2 separate regions of the Homo sapiens genome follow, and region 1 is linked to region 2. The links come from fine-mapping of genetic effects on gene expression. A gene starts in region 2. The other region holds a variant in brackets. All regions are shown on one strand. Distances are between the middles of the regions.

Region 1 (2,895 bases), 740 kb after region 2:
GTGGGGTGTGTGTGCATGTGTGGTGTGTGTGCATGTGTGTATGGGTGTGTGGGTGTGTGTGTGCATGTATGAGTGTGGGGGGTGTGCATGTGTGGTGTGTGTGTGTGCATGAGTGTATGAGTGTGGGGGTGTGTGGGTGTGTGTGTGTGCATGTGTGGTGTGTGTGCATGTGTCTGAGTGTGGGGGTGTGTGGGTGTGTATGTGCGTGTGTGTGTGGGTGTATGAGTGTGGGGGTGTGTGGGTGTGTATGCGTGTGTGCATGTGTGGTGTGTGTGCATGTGTGTATGAATGTGGGGGTGTGTGGGTGTGTATGCATGTGTGTGCATGTGTGGTGTGTGTGCATGTGTGTATGAGTGTGGGGGTGTGGGGGTGTGTATGCATGTGTGGTGTGTGTGTATGTGTGGGGGTGTGTGGGGGTGTGTGTGCATGTGTGGTGTGTGCATGTGTGTATGTGTGGGGGGTGTGGGGGTGTGTGCGTGTGTGCATGTGTGTATCAGTGTGGGGTGTGTGGGTGTGTATGCGTGTGTGTGCATGTGGTGTGTGCATGTGTGTATGAGTGTGGGGGTGTGGGGGTGTATGTGTGTGTGCATGTATGTGTGTGCATGTGTGGTGTCTGCACATGTGAGTGTGGGGGTGTGTGGGCGTGTATGAGTGTGGGGGTGTGTGGGCGTGTATGCGTGTGTGCATGTATGAGTGTGGGGGTGTGTGGGTGTGTATGTGCGTGTGTGCGTGGGTGTGTGTGCATGTGTGTATGAGTGTGGGGTGTGTGGGTGTGCATGTGTGTGCATGTGTGCATGAGTGTGGGGGTGTGGGGGTATGTATGCGTGTGTGTGCATGTATGAGTGTGGGGGTGCATGGGTGTGTGTGTGCCTGTGTGGTGTGTGTGCATGTGTGAGTGTGGGGGTGTGGGGGTGTGCGTGAGTGGGGGGGTGTGGGTGTGTATGCGTGTGTGCATGTGTGGTGTGTGTGCATGTGTGTATGAGTGTGGGGGTGCGTGGGTGTGTGTGCATGTGTGGTGTGTGTGTATGAGTGTGGGGGTGGGGGGGTGTGTGCATGTGTGCATATGTGTATGAGTGTGGGGGTGTGGGGGTGTGCATGCGTATGTGTGCATGTGTGTATGAATATGGGTGTATGTGTGCATATGTGTGTGGGGGTGTGGGGGTGTATGCATGTGTGGGGGTGTGTGGTGTGTGCATGTGTGTATGAGTGTGTGTGCGCATGTGTGGTGTATGTGGTGT[GTGTA/A]TGTGTGTGTGCATGTGTGTATGAGTGTGGGTGTGTGTGGGTGTGTGTGCGTGCATGTATGAGTGTGTGGGTGTGGGTGTGTGCATGTGTGTATGAGTGTGGGTGTGTGTGGGTGTGTATGCGTATGTGTGCATGTGTGGTGTGTGTGCATCTGTGTATGAATGTGGGTGTGTGTGTGTGCTTGTGTGCATGTGTGTATGAGTGTGGGGGTGTGTGGGTGTGTATGCGTGTGTGTGCATGTGTGTATGAGTGTGTGCGCGCACACATGTGTGGTGTATGTGGTGTATGTGTGGGTGTGTGTGTGCATGGGGGGTGTGCACTCACATACTCATGTGCCTGTATGTCCTCAGTGTGCTAAAATATAAAGGAGCCATCAGAGAAATCTGCTTCACAGAAAGCAGGTCAGAGAAGGAACACCCCACAAGCTGTGAAGAGCCCTCATGTCAGGCCCCCAAATGGGCTGAGAAAGCAGGGCAGGCGGCCAGGACGAGCCTTCCCCACCACACCTCCTCAACAGGGCAGGAGATTGTAGGCTTTCTATCACGTTGTTATTGAAAGAAGACCACAGTCTATTGAGACAGATTCAAGATTCGAGGGGCTTGGCTGTTGCCGTTTATCCAAAGCTGCCGCATCTGTGTTCTCCAACAACCACATAGAAACGGCGCAGCCAGGAAGACCCCCAGGTCACCGCACTAGCTCGGGACTCACGGGACACACTTTCAAATTCATCCACGCCCATTAACAGGGAACAGGGGGACACCTGGCATGTTTTCGTGACCTGGTCTCCACATGGCCACTTGAGATTGTCCCCACCCCCTTGGGACCACCACTTTAATATTGCAAAGTGTCCTTGGCCGCCCCTGAAATGGCAGCTGCTTGGATTTCCTGAAATGTTAAAGGACTCCATTAAACAGATCTCTAAAAGGAAGGGCTCCTTCCCTGCCCCCTTCACGCGCCTCAGGTGGGTAGGCCCATCTGGCTCACTTGTCACAAACTGTAGATAAGAGCTCCAATTCCTTTGGGCTGGCCACCCATCAACAAAGACATCATCTTGGGGCTCACTGCCATTGCTGACTCCCGTGAGGTTTGTATACTGACTGTTGGAATGGCGGAGACCTGACCCCACAGGAAATCTGAGGCTGCCTGGAAGGAGAAGGGCCTCCCGAGAGACACCTCTGCTGCCCATCGTCATGCCTGTGTCTCACAGAGGAAATACTCACCCTGTGGCCCTTCTCGCCTGGCAACCCAGCCAGGCCGTCGAAACCCCGGTCACCCTGCAAAAAGGACAGAAAGGCTGCCTCAGACGCCACCCTGCACACGTGGACACCCCGCCTTGGTGTCCACCAAGTGATGGCCGCCCCGCCTTGGACCACGTTTCACACAGCATCTATGCACCCTGAACCCCATCGGCCAGCCCTCTCCCCATAGGCCCCCACTTTGCATCTACAATCTCAGCCTCTTCCCCTGCAAACATGAACATGGGCTGCAAAGGGGGAGATGACTTTCATCCCCAAGTCCCAGGCCCCGACGGGTCCTTAGTCATGCGGTATTTCAGCGACCGCTGCAGTTTCCCGTGTGTGTGAGTGTCTGCTGCTGATCTCCCCCACCCCAGGGAGGCTCCAGGAGAGCAGGGTCCCGGTGTGTCCGCTCACA
Region 2 (2,895 bases):
GCCTGCCCTATCAAGGGCTGTGAGCGCCACACCAAGGCACACAAGAGCGTCCGCCAAGCTGAGGAATAAACTCCTGCTTCTCTGTGGGGCTCTGTATTCCCATGTGGAGGAGGATGGGGCTGTAATCACCTAAAACTGACATAGGCCAGTTCAAAAGTGGCCCTAGAACCAGAGCAGGTCCCAGGTTCCTCCTGGGAACCGCCCCGGGCTCAGATGGGGGTGTCACCTACCTGTGCCGACAGCCAGCTTTGTGTCCCAGATGGACTCGGGCATCGAAGAGGCTTCTCACGGAAAACAGTTCCTTGACATTGAAGAAGTCAGAGTGCTTGAGGGGCTCATTCAAAATCTTGTCGTTGAAATCTACGGCAGGGAGGAGGAGCGACGCTGCGTCTCCCACCGGTGGCAGCAGAGACAGGCAGAGCGCAGTTCCCGCCCACCCCTGCTCCCAAGTGCCTTCTGTGACACCGAGGTGGGGAGCCGGGAGCCCAGCAGCCCCAGGAAAGACCTGGAAGCACAGGGACCTTTTCAGGAAACAGAGGGCTGGAGCCAGGTTCTGATCCCGACCTTGCTCCTGGGTAAGCCTGGTCGAACCTGGTCAACCCCGTCCCTTGGTCTTACTTGGAAGACAGAGGAGAAAAAGAGAGGGGCCCAGCGGGTTGCTCAGGTCTTTCTGGCACCTCCCCGCCTTGTGGTCTCAGGTGGCCAGCCAGAAAGTCCCCATCAGGAGTCCAGCAAGGTGGGCAGACTCCAAGCCCAGTGCCCCCAGGTCACTTGGGCCCGCCTGGGCGAGCTCGGGGCTCCGGGCCTCGGTGGTCCAGTGACACCCCCCTAGGGAGCGAAGCCTGTGCTAACCACTGGCCCGCCCGCTCCCTCTCACCCTATCCATGGTGAGGCGGTGGCCTCAGCCCGCTGTGCTACGTCAGGCAGGACCGAGCGGCGGCGAGCACGGGAGTGGGAGGAGCCCAGCGGAGCGCGCAGTTTCGACCGCGTGCAGCGCCCAGGCCCCTCTAGGGTTCGCATCCCCCGCGGCTGCCGGCCTCTCCTCGTTCCCACCCAACTCGGCTGGGCGCCCAGTGTTACCGGTGCTGTCCTCCGACTCGCGGATCATAAGGGCCGTCGCGCTTCCAAGCGTCCTGCGGCTCGGCCGAGCAGGCCGGGGGGTCGCCTTCCCGAGAAAGCCCAACCAGCGCGACGGGGCCCGGGCACCTGGGGGGAAGTAGATAGAGGTCCTGGCGCCGAGTCCCGAATGCACCACGCCCGCTCCCCACCGCATCCCCAACGGGCCCCTCCGCGTCCCTAACGGGTCCCCTCCGCGTCCCCGCGCCCTCCCCGAGTCCCCTCCGCGCTCGCCCCGGGTCCCCTCCACGTCCCCGCCGCTCCATCGGGTCCCCGCGCCCCTCCGCATCCTCCTCGCATGCTCCTCCCCAGGGTCCCGCAAGCGCGCGCTCACCCGCGCCGAGTATTCGGGGCAGCGCGGCCGAGGATGTCGCCATGGCTGGGACGCGGGGCAGAGCGAGGTCTCCCTCCAGGCCAGGCCGAGCGGCCTCCCCTTCCGTCGCCATCCGCGCGGGGCCGCAGTGCCGCCTACAGGCCCGGAGGAGCCACAGCGCTGTCCCCAGGCGGCTGGGACCTCCCTGCGGGGGCGGGGCACGCGAGGGGTCAGGGCCCGGGGTCCTGGGCTTGAGAGTCTCGGGCGGGGAGTGGAGCCACGGTCCTCGCCCTGCAGCTCGCCCCGCCCTGCTAATGGGACCGGCCAGCCCGGGAGGCCCCTGACCCTTGGGGAAGCCCGCTGGGCGATGGGGACCCTCGCCTCCCGCCAAGTGAGCTGTGAACCACGTCCTGCGCAACCTCTCGCTCTCCAAAACTGTTTGTAATATTTAAACGATATTTGGCTTAGGAGAATTTCATAAAGTTAGCCAGATCTCGGGTCTCAATTTAGACTCGGGGTGCTGGGGGGCATAGCATCCCTGGAGTACATTGGACAGCAAAAGTCCAATCGTTGCCTGCCGAGTGGACCTGCAGTGCTTAAACCCCGTCACCCGGCTGGCGGGGTCCCAGGCCCTGGGGTTTCTTTCGCCCGGGAGTCCACGCCCTGATGCTGGGGTGGCCCGGTCCCCCCGCGGGTGGCTGGGGGCCTGGGGCTGCCTCACACGACGGTCCCAGCAGGGAATCTCTCGCCGTCCCGACCTTCCCGGCCCTTGGGGAGTCGCCCGGCAGGTTCCGGACCCACCCGCAGAGGAACCCGGCCCACGCGCGGCGCCTTTAAGGCCCCTCCGCTCGCTCCCCAGTCACGTGACCTGGCCGTCGCTTGGCAACAGGACGCCGCCGAGTCCCGCTTCTCCTCCAGGCACAATGGCTGAGGAATGCCCCAGAGCGTGCGCGGAGCCTGTGGCGCCCAAGGCCACGGCCCCGCCGGAGAGGACCAGCGACTACTACCGCGTGAGCGCGGACCTGCCGGGCAGGTTCAACAACCCGGGGTGGTTCCGGGGCTACAGGTGAGGAAGCTGGGGCCCGCCTGGTCCTGGCGTCCACTGCTCGATAGCCCCGTGTGTGAGAGACCCCGCAAGACCCCCAAGGTCCTAGCTACAGAAATCAAGAAGATCGAGTGGTCATCCGGGGCCCGCGCTGTCATCGCCCGCCAGTGAGCGGCGACCGTGCTCCCTAGAGCCTCATACAAGGAAGTGGGGATAAGGGCAGTGGGGGGCAGGGCCGTGGGGGGAGAAAGCCCAGTTGTGGTCTCAGCTCCACTGATTTGTGTCGGGTGAGTCTCCTCTCCTCTCTACCCTGAAACTCCGCTGCGGGGCGTGAGCACAGCAGCACCTCCACTGTCTTGCTGTAGACTCAGCCAGCTCTGAGCTGCCACAGGGCATTGCAGGCTAAGAAGTAGTAAGAAAC

Direction of the effects. Alleles are on the strand shown, and positions count from the first base shown. SD is a standard deviation of normalised expression in the study named.
For the expression in whole blood of the gene that starts at base 1,522 in region 2, allele A in region 1 goes with a higher level than allele GTGTA (large effect, 1.2 SD a copy in TwinsUK).

Evidence for each region. PIP is the estimated chance that this variant, and not a neighbour inherited with it, causes the effect.
Region 1: its variant is the best candidate, but not a certain one, in a credible set for the expression of MRPS2 in whole blood (TwinsUK, PIP 0.76).

What each region holds. Positions count from the first base shown.
Region 1 is chr9:134,757,864-134,760,758 of GRCh38, reverse strand. COL5A1 (collagen type V alpha 1 chain) reads right to left here. Exons shown (of 66, transcript NM_000093.5): 18 at 2,463-2,516. Among named protein-coding and RNA genes, the nearest start is that of MIR3689C, 90 kb to the left of the region's middle. The variant GTGTA/A (reference allele first, on the strand shown) is at 1,239.
Region 2 is chr9:135,499,309-135,502,203 of GRCh38, reverse strand. It overlaps MRPS2 (mitochondrial ribosomal protein S2), which reads right to left and starts at 1,522. Exons shown (of 4, transcript NM_016034.5): 1 at 1,451-1,522; 2 at 1,081-1,206; 3 at 231-360. The coding sequence starts at 1,493. It overlaps PIERCE1 (piercer of microtubule wall 1), which reads left to right and starts at 2,335. Exons shown (of 3, transcript NM_001048265.2): 1 at 2,335-2,495. The coding sequence starts at 2,353. RefSeq lists an enhancer at 673-1,297 and silencers at 1,253-1,412, 1,623-1,792, 2,063-2,232.